4 linked regions of the Homo sapiens genome follow. The protein of the gene in region 2 interacts with the protein of the main gene of each other region in a biochemical or structural test. Each region holds a gene or a part of one and is shown on either strand. Other genes may lie near its edges.

Evidence for each region.
Region 1: the proteins of PDGFRA (region 2) and PLCG1 form a complex in vitro, tested with the Homo sapiens proteins (2 studies listed by BioGRID, with this or other methods).
Region 3: the proteins of PDGFRA (region 2) and PDGFC form a complex in vitro, tested with the Homo sapiens proteins (2 studies listed by BioGRID and IntAct, with this or other methods).
Region 4: the proteins of PDGFRA (region 2) and PDGFB form a complex in vitro, tested with the Homo sapiens proteins (3 studies listed by BioGRID).

The regions. Positions count from the first base shown.
Region 1 is NC_000020.11:41,168,525-41,175,548, forward strand, and holds part of PLCG1 (1-phosphatidylinositol 4,5-bisphosphate phosphodiesterase gamma-1), read left to right. Parts: intron 1-242; coding exon 243-346; intron 347-498; exon of another isoform or gene 499-554; coding exon 555-651; intron 652-932; coding exon 933-1,002; intron 1,003-1,587; coding exon 1,588-1,745; intron 1,746-3,668; coding exon 3,669-3,765; intron 3,766-3,896; coding exon 3,897-4,121; intron 4,122-4,204; coding exon 4,205-4,353; intron 4,354-4,895; coding exon 4,896-5,010; coding exon of another isoform or gene 5,011-5,127; coding exon 5,128-5,289; intron 5,290-5,398; coding exon 5,399-5,487; intron 5,488-5,599; coding exon 5,600-5,787; intron 5,788-5,942; coding exon 5,943-5,985; 3' UTR 5,986-7,024. UniProt on the Homo sapiens protein: Mediates the production of the second messenger molecules diacylglycerol (DAG) and inositol 1,4,5-trisphosphate (IP3). Plays an important role in the regulation of intracellular signaling cascades.
Region 2 is NC_000004.12:54,232,278-54,239,301, reverse strand, and holds part of PDGFRA (platelet-derived growth factor receptor alpha isoform 1 precursor), read right to left. Parts: intron 6,203-7,024; exon of another isoform or gene 5,859-6,202; intron 5,343-5,858; exon of another isoform or gene 4,831-5,342; coding exon of another isoform or gene 4,804-4,830; intron 1-4,803. UniProt on the Homo sapiens protein: Tyrosine-protein kinase that acts as a cell-surface receptor for PDGFA, PDGFB and PDGFC and plays an essential role in the regulation of embryonic development, cell proliferation, survival and chemotaxis.
Region 3 is NC_000004.12:156,759,930-156,765,799, forward strand, and holds the end of PDGFC (platelet-derived growth factor C precursor), read right to left. Parts: intron 3,278-5,870; coding exon 3,161-3,277; 3' UTR 525-3,160; downstream 1-524. UniProt on the Homo sapiens protein: Growth factor that plays an essential role in the regulation of embryonic development, cell proliferation, cell migration, survival and chemotaxis. Potent mitogen and chemoattractant for cells of mesenchymal origin.
Region 4 is NC_000022.11:39,241,965-39,249,786, forward strand, and holds the start of PDGFB (platelet-derived growth factor subunit B isoform 1 preproprotein), read right to left. Parts: upstream 3,019-7,822; 5' UTR 2,000-3,018; coding exon 1,937-1,999; exon of another isoform or gene 962-1,936; intron 1-961. UniProt on the Homo sapiens protein: Growth factor that plays an essential role in the regulation of embryonic development, cell proliferation, cell migration, survival and chemotaxis. Potent mitogen for cells of mesenchymal origin.

The sequences.
Region 1 (7,024 bases), on a different chromosome or scaffold from region 2:
CACCTGGGTCCCGAGGTATTTCACTGGCAGAGGCCCTGCCTCTCTGATCATATCTGTCCTGGAGCTTCCCTGCAGGGCAGTAACAAGAACTATAACTAGGGCCTGTTGATGGCAGTGTCATCTCCCACTGGCCTGACCCCAGGCAGGGAAGCCCAAGCACATGTGTGTGTGCACATGAAGCCCCAGGTTGGCAGTGGCAGGGAGAGCCTTTCTGCTCTGACTGGTGCTTCTCACCTCTGCAGTGTGCAGTCAAAGCCCTCTTTGACTACAAGGCCCAGAGGGAGGACGAGCTGACCTTCATCAAGAGCGCCATCATCCAGAATGTGGAGAAGCAAGAGGGAGGCTGGTAAGCCAGTGGTGTGGTAGGCCCAGAGTCCAAGGGCCCCAGTGGAGCTGGGGCCCCAAAGACATGCATTTGTGATGTGCTTGTCTCCTGTGTGCACCAGCAGTGCCTGCCTCACCCTGGCTTAGGCATGGGAACCCCTACCAAAGGATACCCTCCTCATGGGAGTTCGGGGTGGTTGCTGGAGGTCAGCACCCTGTGGCTCCCACAGGTGGCGAGGGGACTACGGAGGGAAGAAGCAGCTGTGGTTCCCATCAAACTACGTGGAAGAGATGGTCAACCCCGTGGCCCTGGAGCCGGAGAGGGAGGTAAGACCAGAACCACCTGAGTAACAGCATTCCCTATTCCCAGATTCTCCTTGGCATGCCCCCATCACACAGTCCCAAGCACGCACGTGCATGCACAGACACCTGTCACATGGGCTGGTCGCACAGCCCATGTGGCCATGCACGTAGTCTCCCATATACCTGTGCTACATTTGGCAGTCACAGGTACACCCACAAGATGTATTTGTCCCATGCACACGGATATCCCCTCACACACATATGCAGTAGCCATGCTGACCATTGGTGGGCTTTGCTTCCCACAGCACTTGGACGAGAACAGCCCCCTAGGGGACTTGCTGCGGGGGGTCTTGGATGTGCCGGCTTGTCAGATTGGTGAGCTCCCATCTGTTTCTCTTGCCCACTGTTCCCTAGGGTGAGATTCTTCTTTGTATCTCTTTCCTGCTCCTAGGGAGGAAGCTGATGGCTGAACCCCAAAGTCTGCCCTCACTCCAAGCTCTCCCCATGCTCTGGACATCCCCTTGACACCCTGGGCTCCCTTTGTCACTGTCAGCTTTGACCCCTGCATGTTTACCTATGCCAGGCACTGGGGAACCCGTCAGAATCAGCAGAACAAAGTTGATGCTGCTGGTTGGCTGACATCCCCAGGCCTAATGGGTTGTACCACAGGGATGTGACAGAGGCTTGGAGATGGGGTGGAGAGGGAGACACGGCCTGAGGAAGAAGCATGAGTCAGAGCTGAGTTGGAACACTGGCTCCACCACAACCAGCAGTGACTTGTTTGAGTTGTAGCGTCGTCATCTGTCAAATGGGCCAGCAGAGTAGTCCTTCCCCTCATGGGGTGTGGGAAGGAGGAAATGGGATGAGATAGAACTCATTTGAGCCAGTGCCTGCGGTGTGGAGTGGGGTGGAGGGGGTGAGATGTCTATTCCCAGCTGTTATCTGCTCTCGCCCTCCCAGCCATCCGTCCTGAGGGCAAGAACAACCGGCTCTTCGTCTTCTCCATCAGCATGGCGTCGGTGGCCCACTGGTCCCTGGATGTTGCTGCCGACTCACAGGAGGAGCTGCAGGACTGGGTGAAAAAGATCCGTGAAGTGGCCCAGACAGCAGACGCCAGGGTGAGATTCTGCTGGAACCTTCTGGGGGGCAGTGTGTGGGCCCGTCAGGCAGCTGAGGCCTCCAGCTCCCAGCACAGGCCCCCTCAGAGCAGTGGGGCAGCCGATGGCCTATGCTAGATAGGCCACAGCCCCTGCCTTAGCTAGGGATTGAGAAGAAACAGACACATAAGATGCAATGTGGTGTGTTTAGGTTGTGTTGAGTTTGAGATACTGATGGGTCGTTGAAGTGGGTCTGCTTAGTGGGCAATTGGATACACAAGACCAGAGGTAAGAGGAGAAGTCCTGGGCTGGAAGCAGGAGTGGAGTGGGGGCTGAGGCATAGAAGGGATGAGGTGGTGTCGCATAGGAAGAGAACTTGGGATGGATTGAGAAGCTCCATATGAGAAGGCATGGGCGAGGAAAGGAGCCCAGGAAAGGCAGGTCAGACAGACTGCAGGCCACTGGTGAGGGAGAGGGTCTGCTGTGTTGAGAGCTACAGAGGTAAAGACAGGAACGATAAGAACTTGCAAGTGCCCTTTGGATTCAGCAGCAGCTAATAGCCCTTGTGAGACTTTTGAGCTGCATCAGCAGCATGGCTGGCATTAGATGGCAGTGGGCAGCAGGGAGTCTGGAATGGCAAAAGCAGAGCCTTTGTAGGGCCTGTCCTTGAGGGAGAGAACAGGTGACTGGGGTTTGAGCAGGCTCTCATGCAGATGGCTGAAAGGAGCGAGCAGCGTGTGGGAGGAGATGGAGCCCAAGCTTAGCTGGTAGGACCAGCCTTCTGGAGAAGGTGGCCTCTTCCCCTGAGCCTGGGGGAACAGAGAAGTATTCTCAAGGGTTAGGGAATTCCTACTTGGTGGCCCTTTCACCAAGTGCATTTGGTAGATGGGTCTGTAGCTGCTTTGGAGAGGGCACCCGCAAGCCAAATAGAGAAGGGATAGGGTGCTTGCCAGGCTGTCCCCTAGAAGGAAAAGGTGCTGGCATACCAGGTGGTTGAAGGACTGGATCTGGGGGTCTAGGCTGAAAAGGGAAGAGTCTGAATGTAAGAGCCACTGAGGCCGGGCGTGGTGGCTCACGCCTGTAATCCCAGCACTTTGGGAGGCCGAGATGGGCAGATCACTTGAGGTCAGGACTTCGAGACCAGCCTGGCCAATATGGTGAAACCCTGTCTCTACTGAAAATACAAAAATTAGCCGGGCATGTTGGCCGGCACCTGTAATCCCAGCTACTCGGGAGGCTGAGGCAGGAGAATCGCTTGAACCCGTGAGGTGGAGATTGCAGTGAGCCGAGATCACGCCACTGAACTCCAGCCTGGGCGACAGAGCAAGACTCTGTCTCAAAAAAAAAAAAAAAAAAAAAAAGCCACTGAAAGAAAGTCCTCCAGGAGAGGATGGGTTGGGGTGCTTGTAAGTGGGCTTCTGTAGAGATTTGGCATGGAGATTTGCCATGAAGAGTGGGTGGTTATATTTGAGTTGGGGGCGCTGAGGCAGTGAGGATCATCCTTAGGACACAGATGGAAACCAAGCCAGGGGCCTGTATCCCCAGTGCAGTCACAGGTAACACAGAAGAATCATTTTTACCCCAGCATGAGGCTGGGTAATAAATGGTCAGAAAGTGTCATTTGGGAGTGTGGCCAATTCCAGGATCCCTGGAAGGTCACTGGGAACATGGGTGGTGATGAGGAGTCTGTATCCCCCACCCCCCCTAAGAGGGTTGGAGGGCAAATGTGTCCTCTGGGACAGAAAAGAGGAAAGATGATTTCAGGATGAGGCTGAGGACAGAGCTCCCTCATTTACTGTTGGGTGTGGTGTCTGGAAGGTACAGGGGAAGGTGGGAGAGGGGCCCAGAGCACCTGCAGTGTGGGCATGCCCAAGGTTGGCAGGGGCTTCCTTCTCCTGGGCAGGGCTGTAGCCTGGGGCTACAGGGCCTTGTGTGTGTCACCAGCTCACTGAAGGGAAGATAATGGAACGGAGGAAGAAGATTGCCCTGGAGCTCTCTGAACTTGTCGTCTACTGCCGGCCTGTTCCCTTTGATGAAGAGAGTAAGGGCCAGGGCCCAGGCGGGGTGTGCATGTGCCTGGAGGGCCTGGTGGGTGCAAAAAGAGTATTTAGGTATCCCCCCAACACTTCCTGGGTGGGCGGGCTCTGTAAGTGTTTTCCCTGTTTGGCCCAGAGATTGGCACAGAACGTGCTTGCTACCGGGACATGTCATCCTTCCCGGAAACCAAGGCTGAGAAATACGTGAACAAGGCCAAAGGCAAGAAGTTCCTTCAGTACAATCGACTGCAGCTCTCCCGCATCTACCCCAAGGGCCAGCGACTGGATTCCTCCAACTACGATCCTTTGCCCATGTGGATCTGTGGCAGTCAGCTTGTGGCCCTCAACTTCCAGACCCCTGGTGAGGAAGTCCCCTGTGAGGAGGGTGAGGAGGGGCACTGTGGGGCAGCTGGACTGGAATACACCATAATCTGCCTCTTCCAGACAAGCCTATGCAGATGAACCAGGCCCTCTTCATGACGGGCAGGCACTGTGGCTACGTGCTGCAGCCAAGCACCATGCGGGATGAGGCCTTCGACCCCTTTGACAAGAGCAGCCTCCGCGGGCTGGAGCCATGTGCCATCTCTATTGAGGTGGGTGCTGCTCATCTGGGCTTCAGGGTAGGAAAGGGGCTGCTTGCCGTTGGAGTCTGTTTATGTTGAGTTCTCCAAAAGTAGGTATTTTCAGGCATCAAGGTGGTCAGGGTGGGTGGGGCCTGAGCTGAGTCTTTGAAGGGGTGAAGATAGCATGCAGTCACTGTATGCATCTAGGACGTGCAGAGCCATGGTGTGACTTGTTCTGATGACTTGTTTTGTTCTGATGAGATCTTTTTTTTCCCTAAGGGGAGGTCATTTAAAAGATTTCTGTGTTAAAATAGTAATGGATTTAACATGAAGTAGATTGCAAAACTCACATGGAAATTTTGGCTAAAGCTCAGACTTCAGATAAACTACAGGCAGCAGCTGCTCTGGACAGCTTAGGGTCCCTGATGTCGTGAGGGACTCCATGGGCAGTGTCCCGGGGGCCCAGCAGAGGGCGCGCTGCCTCCACTCCACAGATGCTGACTGAGCCTCCGCAGTGGGGAATTGGAGGGAGCAGGAAGGACAATCCCAGGCCCTTCTTTGTCTGCCTACAGGTGCTGGGGGCCCGACATCTGCCAAAGAATGGCCGAGGCATTGTGTGTCCTTTTGTGGAGATTGAGGTGGCTGGAGCTGAGTATGACAGCACCAAGCAGAAGACAGAGTTTGTGGGTCAGTCTGTCTTCCCAGTCATCCTCCTCATCCTGCTGGGGCACTGCAAGCCTCTCCCCACCAGTCATCCCATCCTCTCCCACGGTGACCTGAAGCCTTTTGTCGTTGCCTTCACAGTGGACAATGGACTCAACCCTGTATGGCCAGCCAAGCCCTTCCACTTCCAGATCAGTAACCCTGAATTTGCCTTTCTGCGCTTCGTGGTGTATGAGGAAGACATGTTTAGTGACCAGAATTTCCTGGCTCAGGCTACTTTCCCAGTAAAAGGCCTGAAGACAGGTGAGGACCATTCCTGGAGGCAGTGCCCCTGCAATCTTGCTGGCAGGGTGGGGCTGGGCCCCTTGCTCTGTCCCTCGTGGGCTGAGGGCCAGGCTTTTCCTCCTCCTAGGATACAGAGCAGTGCCTTTGAAGAACAACTACAGTGAGGACCTGGAGTTGGCCTCCCTGCTGATCAAGATTGACATTTTCCCTGCCAAGGTATCTGCAGCAGGGGTGGGCTGGCCTGGGGTAGGTGGGAGGAGAGCCAGGCAGCAGCCTCTAGAAGTGCAGAGGAGTCATTGACCCTCTTGTGCACCTGGCTTCGTTGAAGCAGGAGAATGGTGACCTCAGTCCCTTCAGTGGTACGTCCCTGCGGGAGCGGGGCTCAGATGCCTCAGGCCAGCTGTTTCATGGCCGAGCCCGGGAAGGCTCCTTTGAATCCCGCTACCAGCAGCCGTTTGAGGACTTCCGCATCTCCCAGGAGCATCTCGCAGACCATTTTGACAGTCGAGAACGAAGGTGAGGAAGATGGAGGGGTGCTAGAGCCAGGAAGGCAGTGGCTAGGTCCTCCTTCTTCAGTGTTTCTTTCTCCTGGGTAGAAAAGTTGTAATATTGTCTGGCATTGGGCTGCAAGGCCCTGCCTGCCAGTAAGGACACTCTTCCCTTCTGTCCAGGGCCCCAAGAAGGACTCGGGTCAATGGAGACAACCGCCTCTAGTTGTACCCCAGCCTCGTTGGAGAGCAGCAGGTGCTGTGCGCCTTGTAGAATGCCGCGAACTGGGTTCTTTGGAAGCAGCCCCCTGTGGCGGCCTTCCGGGTCTCGCAGCCTGAAGCCTGGATTCCAGCAGTGAATGCTAGACAGAAACCAAGCCATTAATGAGATGTTATTACTGTTTTGGGCCTCCATGCCCCAGCTCTGGATGAAGGCAAAAACTGTACTGTGTTTCGCATTAAGCACACACATCTGGCCCTGACTTCTGGAGATGGATCCTTCCATCTTGTGGGGCCAGGACCATGGCCGAAGCCCCTTGGAGAGAGAGGCTGCCTCAGCCAGTGGCACAGGAGACTCCAAGGAGCTACTGACATTCCTAAGAGTGGAGGAGGAGGAGGAGCCTTGCTGGGCCAGGGAAACAAAGTTTACATTGTCCTGTAGCTTTAAAACCACAGCTGGGCAGGGTGAGAAGCTAGATGCCCCTGCAGTTTGGCCCTGGAGCCAGGGCAGAGGAATGTAGGGCCTGCATGGAGAAGGGTTCTGCCCTGCCTGAGGAGGAGGACACAGCACAAGGGCACATTGCCCATGGCTGGGAACATGACCCAGCCTGAAAGATACAGGGGATCATGTTAAAAATAGCAGTATTATTTTTCGTCTCAATGGTATTGTAACTAAGTTATTTACTCCTCCTGCTCCTCACCCCTGTAGGGAAACCTTGGAGAGGAGAGTGGCAGGTGGGCTGCCTGCTGTGTTAAGAGGACTTAGTTTGTGATGTAAGGCACTGTCAGGAATGGGGGGCGGGCCAGGGTGGGAAGAGAAGAAATAGCAGAGCCTATTTTGGTGAGGTTTTTTGTTTTTAAGTCAAAGAAGACTCAGTATGCTTTCCCTGAGGAATGAAAAAGGGATTGAGGAGTTGCCTGACTCCTGGGTGGGTGGGGTACAGGCAGTTAGGTGCTGAATGAAGCTGCCATCCTTGCTGCAGCTTCTAACTGGTAAAAAGATCCAGGGATGGAGATGGGAAGGTTAGAAAGGCAGCCCTCACCTC
Region 2 (7,024 bases):
CTATAGTTATTTCTTGATTATACGCTCAACAAGCGGTAGAAGATTCATGAGTTTTCCCTGAAAGGGACAGGTAATTCCCAGGACTGAGGGTTCCTCCCCTTTTTAGACCATATAGAGTATCTCTGGTCATTGCTATGGCATTTGTAAACTGCCATGGCACTGGTGGGAGTGTCTTTTAACATGCTAATGCATTATAATTAGTGTGTAATAAGCAGTAGGGATGACCAGAGGTCACTTTCATCACCATCTTCGTTTTGGTGGGTTTTGGCCAGCTTCTTCACTGCATTCTGGTTTTGCTGGCTTATTTATTTATTTATTTATCTATTTTTGAGACAGGGTCTTATTCCATCACCCAGGCTGGAGTGCAGTGGCCTGATCTCAGCTCACCGCAGCCTCCATCCTCCCATCTCAGCCTGCCACCCAACTGCCCCTCAGACCAGTAGCTGGGACTATAGGCCTGCACCATCATGCCCAGCTCATGTTTTTAAAATTATTGTTTGTAGAGACAAGGTCTCACTATGTTGTCCAGGCTCATCTTGAAATCCTGGGCTCAAGCAATCTTCCTGCCTTGGCCTCCCAAAGTACTATGATTACAGGAATGAGCCACCAAACCTGGCCTGCAACCTGTTTTATCACTGGGGTCTTTATGACCTGTATCTATCAACTCCTATACCAACTCCTTTCTCTCCTGTGACTACAAATGTGTAACCTCCTGGGAATGCAGCCCAGCAGGTCTCATCCTCTTCTTACCTAGGCCCTATTCAAGATGAAGTCACTCTGGTATGAACTCCTCTGATGCTAACTCATACAATGGAGTGAGCCTAATGGGACACAATTTGTTCCATCATTGGCTTTGGAAGCTAAAATATGTGTGCATGTGATTCCTGAGTAAACTGGTTTAAAAAAAAGAAAGAGTGAGAGAGAAATTCAATGTATTCATATATTGCTGTGTTTAGCCCTAGTTGGGTTTGGTTTGGTTGGAGGGGATCCAGGATCCAGAAGATAATAGCCTAATCAAAGTTTTTGGTGGGGCCTAATCATGTATTTCTACCGTAAGGTGGCCTACTTTGCAGAAATCAGATTTCTGTTTTATTGAATGCTACCAGGAAAATGGGAGAGGAAGAGAACACAGAGAAAAAGGTGGAAGGCTCCTCACAGGAAGGGGAGTGGGGTATGTAGAAAACAAAGTAAGAGAAGGAGAAACCATTATTTACTAAGCCAAAGTTTGCATGTGCATGCTGTGTTTGTGAAGAATAACCCTGTGATTACTTAGAGCTGATTTTAAGAAGTGGCAGTTGAGGCTCAGAGAGGTTTTGCAAATGACCCAAAGTCACACAGCCAGTGACAGAGCCAGGATTTGAACACAAGGTCGTGTGATACAAACGCCATGCCCTCTCCACTTCACCATATGGTCTCTCTCAAGGGAAGGTCAGTGTTTTAGCCATATCCCACCCCTGTGTGCCACCTACTTGCCTGACTATTTCCTAGGGCAAATTATACCTCCTCCTTCCATTTTCCTCCTTTGCTCACCACAGCAGGAGAAACACAATTACAGTGCTGTGAACCCAAATGCAATTCACACAATGCTGGCTGGCTGATGGCCTCCGAGGATCCTGACATGTGCCTGGGATGCAAGGCTTCCACACTGCTGCGGTGGCAGGCACAGTGGGCCCCAGAGCCAGGCTGGCCAGCCTGATTTACCACAATTAGCAGTAATGCTTGTGTGTTTGTACATATAAATATCAGCCTCCCACTGACAATCCACTCAGCAAACTTCAAACAAGGCCTCCAGAGCCAGCTTGATGTCTTTGGTTTTATCACATTTAGAACCCATATTTCTTTGGCAAGACTTGCCAAAGATGCATCTTTAAAGCTTTCTCCAGCTTAAAAGAAGGGCTCACTGCTTTTCCTGTGCAAGCTCTAAGCAGTGCTTTGCCCTGGCCAGACACTCCCAGATTTCCTTCAGTGCCTCCAGATACAGTGGACCCTCTGCCAGGAAAGATTATTTACTGACATATAAAGTGGCCAATGAGGCCGGGCGTGGTGGCTCACATCTGTAATCCCAACACTTTGGAAGGCTGAGGTGGGCAGATCACTTGAGGTCAGGAGTTCAAGACCATCCTGGCCGACATGATGAAACCCCATCTCTACTAAAAATACAAAAAATTAGCCAGGCATGGCGGCAGGTACCTATAATCCCAGCTACTCGGGAGGCTGAGGCAGGAGAATGGCTTCAACCCAGTAGGCAGAGGTTGCAGTGAGCCAGGATCTCGCCACTGCACTCCAGCCTGGGTGACAGAGCAAGATTCTGTCTCAAAAAAAAAGTGGGCAATGGAAACAGGTCCTCTGAGCAAGCCATCAGGAAGGAAGAGAATAAACATGTGTTTGTTGCTTAAGATTCCAAACCCCAATCTCTGATAACAGTGGTTCCCTGGGTAGAAATCAGGCCTGTTTGTGAACTTTCTTTTTTTCTTTTTTCTTTCTTTCTTTTTCTTTTTTTAGATGGAGTCTTGCACTGCCGCCTGGGCTGGAGTGCAGTGGCATGATCTCAGCTCATTGCAACCTCTGCCTCCCAAGTTCAAGCGATTCTCCTGTCTCAGCCTCCCGAGTAGCTGGTATTACAGGTGCCCACCATCATGGCCAGCTAATTTCTTGTATTTTTAGTACAGACAGGGTTTCACCATGTTGGTCAGGCTGATCTCGAACTCCTGACCTCGTGATTCACCCACGTCGGCTTCCCAAAGTGCTGGGATTACAGGCGTGAGCCACTGTGCTCAGCGTGTTTGTGAAGTTTCATGTCATTACTTATCTATAACTCAGACAGTTTACTCATGAATAATGGCAGTGCTTGCCCCACAGGGAGGTAATGAAGAAAAATGGGAAACATGGGGAATTTCCTCACCTATTAGACCTGTAGTGAGGCTCTCTGGGAGTGAGTCTTGCTGTTCCTGCCACTTTTATCTACTCTAAATGCTCATCCTTAATTAGTAACTGCTATTCTGGAGCTCATCTAAAGTCAGGTGTGCAAATATAAGTAACTGAAACTACAAATTCTGAGAAACATGGCACCATAAGAATCCGTGAGAACAACCCCCTTTGCAGGGAAGAACACTAGATTTCACCCAAATCTTTTCTTCAATCATAATTACTTCCCTCATGCCAACTACATGTTGAACTTCAGCCCCCATTCTCAATAATCACAGCTCAAAAAACATTTGCCATAACTTAGAGGAACAAACTGAGAAAGAGACCCCCCGCCCTGTTGACTCTCAGGCAGGTGACTTGTGCTTTTCCACCATCCTCTTGGCCTTCTTATGCTTTCTCTCAGAAGAAAGGATGGAAATCACATTGGACTAGCCACTGATCCCAAATCTGATACTCTATCCAACTCTCTGAACCTCAGTCTTTTCTTCTAGGAAGCACGACTACCAAGGCCTGACTGGTTGCTTGCCCTGTGGCATTCTTGTAAGGACTAAATTATATAGTTTAATTGAAAGTGCTTTGATTTTCACGACTTTTTCTGCAGACTCCCAAGATATTTTAGATCGGCTCCTTCAACTTCTCCTTAACTAAGAAAGTGAGGGATGCCCCAGAAGCCACATGACTTGCCCTGCACCTCCTACCTCCTGGAGACATGGATCTGAACTCTGATTCAGCCCACACCAGCAGTCCACTCCCATGACCCTGTTACCTCCAGCCTGGTGTGGCTATAAAGACCATTCAAAGATGAGCCAATATATACAGTCACAGAAACAGAGAAACAAATGACTTTGCAGCTACTATCCTTTCTCTTTAACAGGGTGCCATCTCCTGCCCTGCAAACAGAAGTAAAGAGCCATTGGACATGACTCTATAACCAAAGGCAATGTGCAAAGGTAGTGTAAACAGACAGTAGGCAATGCAAGGCTCTATTTCCAGAAGGACTAACAGCAAGACATTCTTCTCCTAAAGCCAGAGAGTTGGCTTCTCAATCACCAATTGCACAGTGCATCCCATTGCAGAACCACTGAATATTGAATTTCACCCCACCCTCACATGATTAAAGACCACAGGAGACTCTCTCACAGCCCCAAAAGCCACTGGTGACTTCAAGATTCAGATTTCCGAGGCTCAGTTAATTTCAGCTCTCCTAAGTTAATTCTAACTGTGAAAATTACACATTTTCCTTTTTCTACGCAGTCTCCTAACTTCAGCCCAGGCAAACCAAGTGCAGGTCTACACTGGTGGAAACTTCTCCCTGTTTTCCAGCAGAGGGTGTGTTTACCAGGACCTCTGCACCCTACCAGAGCCTGTTTTGTTGTTTTGATCTCCCGGAGCTCCATCAGACATTCCAGTAATGGGAGGGGGCTGGAGTGTTTTTAAACAGGAGCCTTTTATGGGACAATCTGGGCTCATAAACATGCCTGCTCTCCTCTCACCATATATTTAACCACGGGAGAATAAAATGACATATCCTTTTGAATATCACCAAACGGGTGTGACTCCTAATGGCACAACCTTAGGAGTAGCAGTAGCAGTTTGAGCATTCGGCTTGAGGTCACCAAGGCCCCGACATAGGTCTCCTCACTCAGAAACGGGAACATCAATGCCCCCCCACTACCCTCCTCACAGGCCAGCTCTGATAATAAGATGTTCACTATGTAAATGCAAAGCATTAACAACCAAGGAGAAACACAACACAAATTTCCACGAAATAAAAATGTTGTCTTCCAGCAATTCTTGTAGCCTCACAGCAAAAGAAAATCAGTCACCTATTACGGTCCTACTGAGCAAAAAATAAATAAAAAATAAAAAATAAAGCACCTTCCTAATGGTCTCCGCGAAGCCCATTCTCACAGCGGGTCGCAGTAGTTCTTACGAGTGGCCAGCAGATGGCAGTGTTGGTCCAAGGACGTGCGTCCACGGGTTGCGACACAGACGCCGCTGCGAGGAATTCTGAGCTCCACTACCCCAAATGTTAATTTCCAGTCTCTTCCTTCCTTAGGTTGTACTTTTAGCTTTCGTGGTGACCTCAGTTGAAAGCCCGCGGGGTTTAAGCAGAAATAGGAAAACTGCTGTTGAAAATGGCTAAATCTCCTCGGGACCCCAGGAGAATTCGGGGACATCTCCCCATCATCCCCATCATCATCCCCATCACCGGGAGCTGGTGCGCCGGGGCAGCGGGGCTTCGGGAAGACGTCTTCGGAGCCGGGAAGACGACGCTGCTGGGCTAGGCCGCAGAGGCTCAGCCGGACTCGCTACTAGGGTTCTGTGCAACCCACGCTCTCGCCACCTCAGCATTTCCGCCCCCTCGGGGCAGGGGGACCGCCTGGACCTCGACGCCGTTCCCGGGCCGCGCTGTCCTATCTGTCCGCGCGCCACCGCCGCCCCCATAAACCAGCCTGGCGAGGGCCGCGACGGCCGCGCAGCTGATTGGAAACGACTGTTACCGTTGCACAATAACGCAGGGTCGTAAAACAAACAAACAGCAACAGGCCGCCCGCGGGGCAAGGGAGCTGGCGAGGGGCTGGAACGCAGAAGACGGCGCCTGCCCCCCAAGAACGCACGGGACCCGTCCTCCTCCACACTCCCCTGCTTCTCCCACATTGAATTACAAGGACGTCCCATTCTCAATCCAAACCCAGAGACCTCGGCCCCCTCTCGTCCACCCGGCGCCTCCCGGGCCCACACAGAGCCTGCGAGGAGTCCACTGGCTGCCCGGAGGAGGGGAAAGGTGACCCAGATTAGCCTCCGCTCCGGGCCCCCGGGGTTCCAGCGCTGCGCTCCACTGAGATAGCGGCGCCGACCGCCCGGGGCTGGGGAAAGCGGGATGCGTCCCCGGAGCCCACTAGAGGGCGCGACAGCCCCGCGAATCTTACCCGGCTCGCCAGCTAGCTCGCCCGCAGCCCAGGCTCCTGGTCCCCGACAGCGCAGCCGGGAGTGCTGCGCGCAGACTTCGCCCGGGAGGCTCTGCGCTCGGACTGTCCAGCCCCCGCCACTGTCCGGCTTCTGACCCCGGGACCCAGAGGAACACTGCGCGGTCCGCTCTCCCTCCCACCTCCACCAAGTCCTCGGCGGCTTGGTTGTCCCGGGGTTGGCGGCGATGCCCAGCCGCTCCGGGGACCTGCGCCCCTGCGCCCCTGCGCGCCGCGCTCTGAACCTCAGAGCTGCAGAGGCCGCTGCGCCCCAGGCACGACGCTCTGCGTTTGCATTGTTTTCAACTGAGACCCGAGAGGGGGCCGGGCGGGTGTGGAGAGAGGGGGGAGAGCGGGAAGAGAATCCGGGCGGGTGGGGGGAAAGGGGCCGAGGGGTTTAGGGTTACAGGAGCTCGCCAGCGCCTCCTATGGGCACGAGAGCCGCACGGCCGTGGGTAGCGGCTCACCGGGAATGCTGAGGAGAGCTAGCATGCGCCCTCTCGGCATTTAAGAACCGTTCCTGGCCGGGCGCGGTGGCTTACGCCTGTAAATCCCAGCACTTTGGGAGGCCGAGGTGGGCGGATCACCTGAGGTCAGGAGTTCGAGACCAGCATGGCCAATATGGTGAAACCCCGTCTCTACTAAAAATACAAAAATTAGCCTGGCGTGGTGGCGGGCACCTGTAATCCCAGTTACTCGGGAGGCTGAGGCAGGAGAATCGCTTGAACCTGGGAGGCAGAGGTTGCAGTGAGCCGAGATCGCACCACTGCACTTCAGCCTGGGCGACAGAGCGAGACTCTTGTCACACACACACACAAAAGTGCCTTCTGGTGCCACCTTGCCCGACACGCGCCATAGCCGCCTCTGCCCCCTCAAGAGTCCGCGCCCACCCGCGCTTGTCGCTCCCCTTTCGCGGGGGCCGAGAAACTGCAGTAGGAGGCAGGGAAGGAGGCGCCCCAAGTCGGGTTTCCCATTATTCCCTCCTACAATCTACTTTTTCAGCCCATCCCAGGTTCGCTCATTGATCAGTTTAAAACAAAAGGAAATGCCGCCGAGCCACTTCAGCAAACGACAACCATCTGGCAGAACCCGAATTAGGGGGAAGTTGGGAGAAGCCATTTGCCCCCGAT
Region 3 (5,870 bases), about 100 Mb from region 2:
AAACCATAGTCAATGCACCTGGAGACAGGGATGCACCGAGGGTAACCAAACCACGTTCAATGCGCCTGGAGACAGGGATGCACCGAGGGTAACCAAACCACGGTCAATGCACCTGGAGACAGGGATACACCGAGGGTAACCAAACCATAGTCAATGCACCTGGAGACAGGGATGCACCGAGGGTAACCAAACGATGGTCAATGCACCTGGAGACAGGGATGCACCGAGGGACCAAACCACGGTCAATGCACCTGGAGACAGGGATGCACCGAGGGTAACCAAACCACGGTCAATGCACCTGGAGACAGGGATGCACCGAGGGTAACCAAACCATGGTCAATGCACCTGGAGACAGGGATGCACCGAGGGTAACCAAGTCATAGCCAGGATGTTTCTCACAGTGTAGCTTCTCATTACTTTGGTCTTTGCACCTTTACCAAGTGCACATGAGAATTATTAGATGAGGGAGGGAATGTAGAAATGGGATGCAGAAATGAAAAATGTAGACATGAACACCTGCCTCATGACATTTAAGGCTTGCTTTTATTTTAGTAAACATCACTGGGCAAAACAGCCCATGTCTCAAGGACAAAGGCTTGAAACAGATATCATACACAAAACGGTGTGTGGTCAATACAGTCAATACTTACTGTACTTCTCAGAAATTAGGGTCATGTGCTATTTATGTGTGTGTGTGTGTGTGTGTGTGTTTAGTAAAATACACAGGACGATCTATGAGTAAGTGATTATAAAGTGGTTAGTCCTCACATGGTAACCACTCACCGACTGGCAACTGAGGACTGCTACCCTTATGATCTCTTCTGGCTGTCAAGATTTTATAAGTAAACAAAAAATAAATATTAAAAAAGGGAAAATATATTTCGTTCAAAGATGGGAAACAATGGATTAAACACAGTTAAACAGGCTATTTACTAAGACTTAGTAGTCTTTACTATACTAATGAAAGTTGTAAACTGCCAACTACTTACTACGTTGCATATTCCATATATCTAGTTGGCCTCTATATGGATAGGACAAAACCAGGAAAAGGTAAGGAAGTAAGACAGAACACATAGGCTCATTTTGTTTCTTTGTTTTCCACATAGTTGGAGGCAGGGCAGAACTGCAGGTGTCAAAGCACAGGAAAAGGGTGCTTGCCTGAAGAGCAGTCTGAAGACAGAAGGCCCTGGACACTAGACATCTCTGCCAAGTTGAAAGGCTGAGGAAAGGATGCTGAAGATACCAGCCCTGAATAGGAATCTATGTCTGGAACTGAGGAACCATATCTTGAAGTGTGCAATGTACAATAATCCATGCACCAAATCAATTTATGCTCACCCCATTTAGTAGTTGCCAGTGACAATGAAGACATGAGTGGAAACCTGCAAGTTTTTTTCCAGTTTCATACTACCATACCACCTATCACCAAGCATTTCATAAACCATACAACTTTCAAGTCAGGTGAAACTTAAATTACCAGAAATCTGTATTAAGACCAGTAAGAAAAATAAAACCATTGCTCAAAGGCATTGGAAACAAGAGGCAGAGAAGGCTCACAGGTATCTTCCCTTTTTTTGTCTTTTGAATTGACATATGCTTTTGCTAAATGAAAATCATAACAGAAAATTTTATCTTTCATTTTCTCAGAGTCCAAGAAATAAATCTTGAGCACACACACACATAATTTTCTCCCCAAAATAGCCACATTCTTTTATTTGATGATTCAATACATTTTTGATTCAAATAGTCACCACATAACCTAGGCACGATATTAAGCATTTTACAAGCAAAATATTTTACTGATTTTCTTTTAAATTGCCAGAGTACAATAAGTGAACTGGTTAAGAGACATACTTCTGTACATAAAAATATCCATGTATTTATACAAGTGTATGGAACAGAGTTTAAGATAATAAAACCACAACATCACAATAAATAGGATGTGTTCCTACTGCACAGCACAGCACGCTTTATCAGGAAGCTGCCAAGTCTTTTTCAAGGTGCTTTATGTTTTTCTGAGCTAGGCTCAGATTTCCCCAAAAAAGGAATAGGTTAGTAATGGCTGGATCTGAATGTCTACTTTCATAAGTTGCTTTTTATTTTCATCTCCAATAACAGGAATGGAAGATATGATAATTTAATTATTTTCAAAAAGTCTTTGCAACTTACCAATTCTATTCCAATTCAGTTTTTTAAAATGCAGATTAATCTAACTCTAGCACCATACGAGAATGAAATACATGTATTTTTGTCAGAGCAACAATATTTTATATCATCTTTGTTCCTCTGGCTATAACAATTGTGTTTAGAAAAATTTACCAAGCTAAAAATAGTTGATCTAAGTTGTCATAAAAAAGAATATTAAATACCTTTGGTAAAAATAGATATATTTAACAAGATTAGAAAAGCCAACAGTTATAATGTCAAAAGGAGAATATAAAAATGTACACAATGAAACAAATAAACTGACTTATCGATAAAGTGAAGATAAGGCCACTCTTCTTTTCAGGTTTATCTCTTCCAAACCATGAATGTAGTTCTCTTCTTCTAAATGGCAGAAATTTTAATAAGAAATATGAAAAATCCAGTCTGTCCTATCAGCACGACACAAGTTTAATTCATAGCAACATAGTTCCTTTTTAAAAACCAGGTTTGTAGTACATAGAATGTTCTGGTTTACATATGTGAATATGAGCAAAAAAAAAAAAAAAAATCCAGATTTTATACGATTTTAGGCCCAGGACATGGAGCTTTAGAGTTAAGCAAGGCAACGGAATCAGGTGCTCACTTGCACAGTTTTTTTCCTGTACTGACATTACCCTAAGCCGTATCGAAAGAACTGAAATACAGAACCCAGCTAGTGGAATACGTACATGGTAACTCTGAAACTAGCTGGTGATCTATTTAATACAACATTTAATTTTCTTTCCACGATTGAAGACCTTTTCTCCTGTCCTTTAGGCCTCCTCTCAAAAGAGCTGTTGCACAACTCCTAATTCTGTTTGATGTCTCCTCTTTCAGAATGCACTGTAAATCCTGAAGATGAAAGGTCCTTGAAGCAAACAACTGAGATTAAGGATGGAGATAACGCATACGTTCTCTAATAGAATCAGCCACTGCACTGCACAGCTCTGGGCAAGAGCTGCTGGTGGTGATGCGGCTATCCTCCTGTGCTCCCTCTGCACACACAGTCACACTCCTCATGGTGCTCCAGGGCCACGTCGGTGAGTGATTTGTGCAATCCCCTGACACCGGTCTTTGGTCTCAACTGAAGGACCTGAAAGGGAATAAGAGTAAGCCACTTTTAAAAATCAACGAATGTCTATGACTGGCTTTTATAAACAAGTAACGTTTTAGAAAAGAATCTTGGGGCCCAAGAAAGACACATATTTTAATTTTTCCTAGAGCACGCATTATGAAAACACTCTCCCACCAAAAAAAAAAAAAAAAAAAAATCATCATTTCATGAAAGCACAGACATTTTAATGCCAACAATTTGGAAGCATTCTGTCTCTGAATAAGGAACAGTACTTAAATGGAAAGACTCACCACGCAATTGTTATTTTATTTATCTGACTATTTTAGAATTTCACCTTAAGTATTTTGGAACTACCAATATAAAATTCGTTTTTCTGTTTGTCGCTTTCTTTCATTCATTCATTTATTCACACATTTAACAAATATTTATACTTGATGCAATACACTCAAGTGCAGAAATACTGTGGAAAGAAACATGATCACTCCACAGCTGAGTCTGCTCAATTATGCCACTCATTAATTTTCTTGGCTACACTTCAAGTCCTCTATAAACTTGATGAGATGGATTAGATGTACTTCATAGACATCAGCCCCAGTCACAGCTAACTTCCTGCAGCTGGATCCTACTGTGCAGTGAGAAGAGGTTTGGCAATAATAACAATGATGCCTCTATTAAATAAAGTTATCTGCAGTTCAGATTGTCAAGGTTTTAATAAAAATACAGCAAGATTGACACTTATGCTACACATATTTCCTCTTAATACTATGACAAAAAGATGCAGTTGTGTATTCTATAAAATATTAATTAAAGTATTTGGTGTTGCTACCTATTTAAGTGTATTACATTTTATTTCTTATGATAGAAACAATAAAGTTTAGGAAATTGTATTTTGTTTGGATTATGAACAAAGGCCAGAGCACAAAATAATATGAAATTTTCTAGCATCTCTACTTTTTGGATACGACATAGATAACCTCATAAAGCCATTTCTAAAAGCTACCAGTCCTAAAAATGTTCATTAATCCAAAAAGGCACAAGTCAAGTCTTATGACTGTTCTATTTAAAGACTTAAAAGAAAAACAGAGAATGCATACCTCACTGGAGTATGTGGTAATATCAGAGGTTAATTAGCTAACATTTTTTGAATGCTTACTGGGTGCCAGGCACAATAATAACGTTTTTACATACTTTAACTCACAAGAATTCTATGAAGTAATTTACAATTATTACCCCTATTTTACACATGAGTGAACAGAGGCTTAGACAGAGTAAGTGACACAGCCTTTATTTGTACCTAGCCCAGAGATGAATTATTAGAGAGATAGATAATAATTTTATAGACTCAGAATATCACTGCTCATACATTCTATTTATTTAGTAACTTTCTTCCTGAAGAGATAAACTTCAAAGTCTTGTAATAACTATTAGAAATTCTAAACTTTTAAAGTAGTTTTCTCATCTATTTCACAATTCTAAAATAAAAATTACTTTGACTTTATTTCTTTAATGTGAAATTTAACTCAATGGCTACTGAATACTATTTTATGTTAGTACTGATTTATTATTTTTGAAAAATTTAGTGTGTCAGACTAACTACATTTCAGATATTGGCACTATTCCTTATCACAGTCTTGCTGCAAATTGTTTCTGGAATGAGATTGGGTGGGTGGGTAAGATAAATTGCAATATTGGCATAGACAACGTCTTCAATTCCTATGTCCACCTGTATGCATTTTCCCATTCAGCAAGGAAAAAAAAATTACTATGTAAGGTAAAGATTAGAGAGGCCACCATACACGGTCCTAACAGTCAGGCCAGGCTGCAATCCTTGCTTCCTCTAGCATGCATATGCCAAGATGCATTTGCTGAATCAAAGTCTCCTGTCTTTGTCTGCTGATGCTCATGGAGATTTACAAATAGCAGAAGAATCTCTTATGTTCTAGAAACTTAAGTCCTGGATAAGAAATTCTAATGGTGGAGGACACAATTAGTGTTCTTGTTTTTAATTCATTTTGAAAGTTTTGACTTTGGTGGAGAAAAATAGACTTGGAAAATGATCAGCAGGTCCCAGACAATATTAAAGAGGAAAAGGACATAGATTATGCCACCAGAAAAGAAACAGGGCTAATGTTCATCTCAGAAAATTTAGACGGAGAGGTTGAAATTAAAATGATAAGTCCATGAAAAGGAATGTCCAGGGAGAAGCTGAGCCAGAGATTGTGGAAGATAGTAGATAAGACACAGAGAGAACCGGCAAGGAACAAATGCTCATGGACCATTGCTCAACACGTTCAAACAAAATGACCTTGAACTTTTGAGAACCACAGAGCACTGGGAACAGGGATTCAGCACTAGAATCAGGCAACTGAATGCTACAGATTTTTAGGTTTGTCTGTGCAAAACAAACAGACATAATGTAAGAATGTAAGACTATTATTTCATAAAAAATTAAATATGTAAAAATATAAACAAGATGAAAATTATTAAGCCAAGTAAGAACAGAGAAAAAGGAACGAATATTTTACTATTGTCAGAGTATCCTGTAGATCTTTTGGCCAGAATACCTTTCCTGCTTCAGGGCAAAATTCATTAAATCTTTATTGATCATTTA
Region 4 (7,822 bases), on a different chromosome or scaffold from region 2:
GCCAGGAAGGAAATGGGGCCGCTACAGAGGTGGTGAGGTGCCAGGGCCCACGGAGGGCCCACCTGTTGCGCGGGGGCGAGCACCAGGCGCTGGGTGCACGGGGGCCCGTGCGTGCCTGTGTACGTGCGTGGGTGTGCGCGCACGTGTGCTCAGGCCGCGCGTGCAGGGGCCGTGCGTGCGTTTGTGTGCGGTGCGCGCGCGTGTGTCCCGCGTGTGCACGGGCGTGGCAGAGGCGGGCGCGCGACCTGGCCGCGGTAGTGCGTGCCCGTCGCTCTGCGCGCCCGCCCGCCGGAGCGCAGCATCGCCTCCGGCCAGGAGTGTGCATGCGTGGGGTGAGTGAGCGAGTCGGGGGCCCGGGCGGGGTGGGCTGCGGAGAGCAGCCACGGGGCGCCGCCGTTCCCAGGACGCCCTGGCACCGGGCCCAGCCCCCAGGTCCCACGGCGAGGCGAGGCGGCAGCTGGGGCCGGCCGGCCACCCCCTCCCCAACAGCTGGCCGCGGCCCGGGGGGCTGCGGGAGAGGCGGAGAGGGGGCGTCGGGAGGGGCCTGAAGGCGGCCCGGCCGAGCCCCGCGTCCTCCCTCCCGGGTGCGGGCCGCGGGGGGCGGCCGCGGAAGGGCGGGGCCCCCGGGCGGGCGGCCTGCGGCCCTCGAGGAGCCCCGAGAACAAAAGGAGACGGCGACGGCTCCTCCGTGGTCAAAACAACCTGCGCTGGCGGCAGCCCAAGGCCGGGCCGCGGCCTCCGAGCCCTCCGCCTTAACCCCTTCGCCGCCGCTGCCTCCTTCCTGCGCCTGGCTGGAGGCCGCAGGGGCCGACCCTCCCCGGGAGCCGGCGAGGTGCGGGCGAGGTGCGGACTCCCGGCCGCAGCCGGGCGGAGGTGGGACGGTACCCAGTCACGCCGCGCTCCCGGCTGCCCTCTCCTCCCCTCCACCGCGCGCGTCGTCCTGCCCCGCCCCCTTTCCCACCTGGATTCCGGGTAGACTTGCCAACTCACGGCTACGTGAGGCTGGGAGGGGTGGGGACGGCTCCGACCCCAGCGCTCCCTCAGATGTTTTTATACCCCATCTCCCGTGCAGCTAGGCTTTTGCAGGCGGCGCGCTCCGCACCCTGCATGCGGGGGAGAGAGGTGCTTCCTCCTGCAGGGCGCGGGCACAGGTACGGCAAGGCCTCAGGCACACAGCGCCCCGGGGGCTGGATTCCTTCAGAGCCCCTAGTCCTCCCCCTACCCGAGTGCCCGAAACCTACCTGCGTCTCTATCTTTCTCTCCCTCTCTCTCTCCGTCTCTCTCTCCGTCTCTCTCTCTCTCTCTCTCTTTCTCTCTCTCTCTCTCTCTCTCCCTGTTACTCCCACCCCAAACCCCGCGCCCGAGACACAAGCTGCTTCCAGACCGTGCTCTGGGGCCGGGCATGCCCTGCGCGTGCCGGAGGGCGTCCACCCGGACCCCGACCGGGAGCCAGGGTGGGACCCGAGCCCCGTCAAAGGTCGGCGTGGATGGCACCGGTGCGCAAGCTTGCACCTCCTGGGCAAGCCGATGGCAGGACAGAGCCTAAGCCGAGGCTGGCGCCGAAGTGGGCTCGGGAGGACGCGCTGCCTTCTGCACCCTGGGCACCACCCCACCCCCTCTCCCCCGGCCGGGAAGGGGCTTGTTCTCGGGTTCCCAAAGGGTGGGGGACAGGGCCACACACACCCTCCCCCGACACGGAACGGCTTAGGGAGCCAGATTCGCCCGCCGGTTGGAAAGAAAGCCACCGCTGTTGCCTTCCCTTAGAGCCTGTCACCCCCGGACCTCGCTCCCAGCCCGAAGAGGTCACCCAGCGCCCGGCGTCAGGCTCGCGGGCTGCAAGGGTCCAAAGTTCACTGCAGGGAGAGGAGGGGGCGGTCAGAAGGGGGGGGCGAAGGTAATGAATGAAGAACCAGCCCCAGCCGCCGTGGCAACTCACCTCGGCGCTGACCAGACGCAGGTAGCAGCAGAGAGACAGGAAGAGCGCCCAGCAGCGATTCATGCCGACTCCGGGCCCGGCCCCGCGGGGCCCCGGACGCGTAGATCGAGCGCGCCGCCCCCGCGGCCAGGGTGGGGGGCTGGGGAGGGGGGTGGGCTCGGCTCGGGTCCGCGGCGATCAGGCGCTCAGGCCTCTGCAGCCGCGGCTCACCCGCATGGCCCCCGGGCGCCGCCGCCCCCGGCCCCGGCTCCGTCGCTGGGGGGCAGGGGAGGACCTGGGCGCAGGACCTGGGTCCGAGGCCGCTACCTGGGCGGATCCCGAGCCCGAGTGAGCATCCACGGCCGGGGGGCTGCGTCGCGAACCAGCCGAGGCGTCTAGCCGTGTGGGGGCGCCCAGGGGACTCCAACCTCCAAGAGGAAAAGGAACACGGCAGTCGATGGTTCGTCTTCACTCGCCGGCTACAGGCGTTTTCCTCTGCCCGCCGGCTTAGCTTTTTTGCAACATTTTCTGGAAAGGCCCCCAAAATCGGAAAGCGCGGAGCTGGGCACCTCAAGGCCCAAGTCTCCCCCAAAAAACTTTTTCCAAAGTTGGCTTTGCAACGGCAGCTCGAGCACCCGGGCAGGGAGAGGTGCAAACTCCCGCCCGGGCCGGGTAGGGGGGCGGGAGCGTGTGCGCCCTGGCGCGGGGCCCGGGCGGCGGGCACGGCTGCTCCGCGCGCGCGGCGTGCCCGCTGCGCGCTCGGCTGGGCCCGGCCGACAGGTGGACGCGGCGCGAGTCCGTCGGTCCGTCTGCCCGCCCGCTCGCCGCTCTGGGCGTCCTCTGCGGGCTGCGGGCTGCGAGCTGCGAGCTGCGAGCTGCGGCTGCTCCGGTTTTCTCTTTGCAGCGAGGCTGGAGGGTGGGCTTTTTTTTTTTTTTTTCCTTTTTGCGCGCGTATGTATGTGTGTGCGCGCAAAGTATCTCTATCTAGGGAATGAAAAATGGGCGCTGGCGGCCGGAGGGGAGCCCTAGGGAGGCAGCGGGGGAGGCTGCGGGTGCGCAGGGAGGCAGGCAGGCCGCTCCCGGCTGCAGGAGGAGAAGTTGCCACCCTTTCAGCTGTTCCGGCCTTTATAAAGGAGAAGGGAGAGTGCGAGAGGTGGGTGGAGACAGCCTTTCCTCTTCTGGCCCGGAGTCAGCGCCAGGAGGGGGGGGACGCGGGAGCTGGGGGAGGGCTTGGGGCCAGGGCGGGGCGCTTAGGGGGTCTCTGAGAGCCGAGCAACCCTTCAGTCCATGAATCTGGCCCTGGGGAAAAAAGAACTAGGGGTGACCCACCGTCCCGCCCCTCAGCACAGTGACCATGGACAGGTTAGGAGCCCACGTGGTCTAGGGGGATGTCTCCAGAGCCAAGGCCAGGAGTCCACGCTCCCCTCCAGGACCAGACATTTCCACCCTGGCACAGGCATGGCAGGGAGGGACTCAGGCTCTGCAGTCTGAGAGCCTGAATTCAGATCCTGCCCTGGCACTCGGGAGCTTGGGTCACCTTGGGCAAGTCACTTCCCTCTGTCCCCTCCATCTAGCCTCAACCTGGAGATGGGGCTATTGTAAGGACTCAGTGTTAGCAAGGGAAGACACCGCAAGGTGAACCCACAGAACCCGGCAGCCAGCGCCCTTCAGCTGCAAGCTGGGTCCGAGTCTCCTCCTCCTAGCTGGTTGCCTGGCACAACAGGCCCTGCCAGCGTTGGCTGAATTTGAATTTGTTGAACTGCAAAGTCACACAAACCCCCACAGCCCTGCAGCATCTTCGCAGGGCTACCAACATGATCTTCCCGTCAGTCACCCTGCTGTTTACTATCTCCCTCAGCCCCCGGGTTCGAGGCCCAGAGCCCACCCACCCACAACCAGCCTTCACACAGTTAACGCCTTCTGCCCCCAGTCAGGGAGCTGCTGTGTCCCTGCCTTCAGCAGTCACACTGTCTCAGTCACAGTCACACGTACTCACACTGGGCCCAGCACCCCCCTCGGGACACGCAGGCTCCTGCATCACCCAGCCTCCCGGCTTTGAGGCACCCTCATCTCCTCCGCTTGCACTGTCTCTGTTATCCGCCCTTCCCTTTGGGATGTCAGCCTGCTTCTCACAGAGGAGCACACTGAGAGAGTCACACCTGCTCTCTCTTCATAGACTGTCTTCTTGGACCTGGACAGGGTGGAACAGAGGAGGAAGGACATCTCAGGTGGTCTTTACAGACCACTGCAGGCACCCACCCACTGCTGCCTACCACCCAGCAGCGTGGCACAGTGGCAGAGACACAGCCTGAAGACACATCACCTTGGTCCAAATCCTGGAGTGGCCACTTGCTGGACAAGTGTCTGCAGGAAGGTTTTTTAACCTCTCAGTACCTCGGTTTCCTCCTTTATAAACTGGAGATGAATTTATAAACTGGAGCTGGGTGTGGTAACAAGCTCCTGTAGTCCCAGCTACTCAGGAGACTGTGGATCGTTTTGAGCCCAGGAGTTTGAGGCTGCAGTGAGTTGTGACTGTGCCACTGCACTCCAGCCTGGGCAACAGAGCAAGACCCTATCTCTAAAGAAATAAAAATAAATCTATAATGGGAAGGAGTGAGAGAGAACAGAGAGGCATGGCAAAATTTTAGTGGTGATGGAAATGTTTGTCATTTTTGATTGTGGTGATGGGCTTATGGGTGTATACGTACATCACAACAAAATGTGTGCAGTTTGTTGTACCTCAGTGCAGTTGTAGAGAATTTTTACCCTGCTCCTGGAGTGGTCTGGAGGCTCCCATGAGGTCCTCCATGTGGAGGCGCTCAGCAAAACACCTTAGCAGGAAGCAAGCGCCTGGAACCTTCCATGCAGCCTTCAAGTTCACTGGTGGCCCCGCACTGCTCCAGGCACTGGGGAGACAGGTGTGAACCAGCCTAATGCAGGCCCCTGCCTTTGAAGAGCCCCATTGAGAAGGACAACCAGATGTATAAACAGATAAATTAGGAGACAGGGTGACAAGGGAGATGGGGCAGCGGGACGAGGAGATAACCCCCAAACACTAGATTTGAAGTCTAACGACTCAGAGATAAAAACCCTCTTCCACCGGACAGCTGGGTCATTTGACCTTGACCTTCTGTGTCTTCTATAAATAGAATGGTAACAACTACCATGATTAGTGAGCTGACTATGTGGTAGCTAGTGTTTTTCTTACTCTACCTGTAGCCTCTCCATGCTCCTGTGAGATGTGTTATTCCTATCTTACAGATGGGGAAATGGAAGCACAGAGAGGCCAATACACTTGTTCAAGGTCACACAGCCCGTAAGTGGTAAGGCCAGGACTTGAATCTGAGCAGTCCAGCTACAGAGCCCACATGCTGAGACCACCGTGCTGTGCAATTTTCTGGCAGGTGATGCTGATGACAATGATGACACTTTTGACACAGCGCTTTGGTGAGCGCCACATGCATTAATATGTGGGAACCTGCTCTGCCAGCTAAAAAGTGATGGACCCATATGAACTCTGACTTAGGTACAAGTTGAGGGAGAGGGAAGGCTACTCAGAGCAGCATCGTAGAACGCCTACTGTTTGCAGACCCTGTGTGAAGCGCTGAGAAATGGAATGAGGAAGGAGTCCCAGCCTCGGCACTCAGGGACTTCCCATGCTCTCAGTGAGATAGACCCAAATCATTGCAGTGCAGGTGCCAGTACATGGGTTAGAAGTGGCAGAAGAGGGCCCAGCAGACACCTGGGCCTGAATGCTACGTGACACCTGCGTGACACCTGGGCCTGAATGTTGTGCTAAGGGCTCCTTTCTTGTACCTTCTCTGTGCAGAGGAACAGTCTGTAAAGAACACCTCCCCAGGCACGGTGGCTCACCCCTGTATTCCCAGCAATTTGGGAGGCTGAGGCCAGAGGATCATGTGCAGCCAGGAGTTCGAGACCAGCCTCAGCAACATAGCGAGATCCCATCTCTTAAAAAAAATTACCAAAAAAAAAAAAAAAAAAAAAAAAAAATATATATATATATATATATATATATATATATATATATATATATATATATCTGAGTGTGGCCCCAGCTACTCAGGAGGCTGAGTCAGGAGGGAGAATCCCCTGAGCCCAGGAGTTCAAGACTGCAGTGAGCCATCTCAGAGACGGGGTCTCGGTCTGTCGCCGAGGCTGGAGTGCCGTGGTGCGATCTCTTCTCACTGCAACCTCTGCCTCCCAGGTTCAAGCGATTCTCCTGCCTCAGCCTCCCGAGTAGCTGAGACCACAGGCGCCTGCCACCATGCCCAGCTAATTTTTGTATTTTTAGTAGAGACGGTTTCACCATGTTGACCAGGGTGCTCTCGATCTCCTGACCTCAAGTGATCTGCCCCACTCAGCCTCCCGAAGTGCTGGGATTACAGGCATGAACCACCACACCCAGCCTAAAAATTTTTTTTTAATAACACCTGATCGTCTGCCTCCTGCCAGGCTGGGTGTAGCAGGCACCTCCTCCAGAAGGCCCACCAGGCTTGGCACTTGTTCCAGGCTCCACAGCATGCACACCTGGCATCGTCATGGCCTGATCATCAATCTAGCACTAGACTGAGTCCAGAGTGTTCAAGGGCCTCCTGCCAGCTCCTAGCATACAGTGGCTGCTCAGGAAGTGCCGCTCGCTGAAGGAATGAATAAATGATTAAAATCCTGCCAATTTCTCTTTCTGAGTCCTGACCAGTTATTGCAGAGATGCCAGGCCCTTCCTAAAGGGTGGAAAGAGTTGGGGAGGGGCTTGTAGCATGAGCCTCTAAGCTTGGAAGCACAGGGCCCCTGAAGGGCACCCCTTCTGGAGGTATCAGAACTGGGAAGGGTCTGAAGCCACACCACCCTGAATGCACGTGGTCTCATCTGACCTCGGAACTTCATCAGGGCTGGGTCTGAGGAGCACTTGAATGAGAGAACTGGGAAGGCCCCCGCCCATCTTCGCGTTCAGGCCACTGGGAAATAAGGTTCTCCAGCAGAGCTAGGGATGGGGGCGCCCACACCCCCGTAACTCTCCACCCTCCACTCCAGGACAGATCTGAGCCAAAGGGAAAAAGAGTGGCCACAGCCGTGGGGGATGGGGGTGCTGCCCAAGGTTGGGGGCTTTTTAGACTGTGTGCTCAGAGCTATCCAAGCCCTCATCCATGAAGAGCATCTTACACCCTGGGCGTGGGGGTCCAGGACACTGGCTGGGGTGAAGAAATACCAAGGAAGGAGTTGGGTTCCATCCCGGGGGCAAACTCACGCCCTCAAGTCCAGAAAGGTGAGAGCGATGATCACTGGGAGCCTCCCCGCCACTGAGAGGGGCCAGCAACACCTGGGCCAGGCAGCTCTGCTTCTCCATACTTGATGGAGAGGAAGTGAGGCTCTAAGCTGGAGACCGTCCAAGACCATGCCACAAATGGTCTGAAACTCCAAGCCCTACCCCACTCCGCGTGGCCCTCATCAGCTCCCCCATGCCCCTTGCTGCCCCATCCCCTGCCTCCCTGTCTACAGGGCCTTTGGCTGTCCACAAAGCACTTCCTTCCCCTCTGCCTGCCTCACCCTCACAGTCGCCCAGGGAGAAGGCATTGCCATCGTATATGCCCATTGTACAGATGAGGAAAGTGAGGCTGAGAGAGGGCAAGGGACTAGGCTTCCCGTCAAAGACCACCTGGGTTCAAAGCCCTGCCCTACCATCTACTAACTCTGTGACCTTAAGCAAATTCCTTAACCTTCCTGAGCCTCACGTTCCTCCTCTGTAAGTCGTAGGGACAATAGTCCCTACCTCACTGGGTTAAATGAGTTAATTCACCTGAAGTGATAAAGCCTGGAGTGAGCACCCCACAGATGTTGGTCATCACAGTGATGGTTATTACTGCAGGCTCTGCGCGCGCGCGCACACAC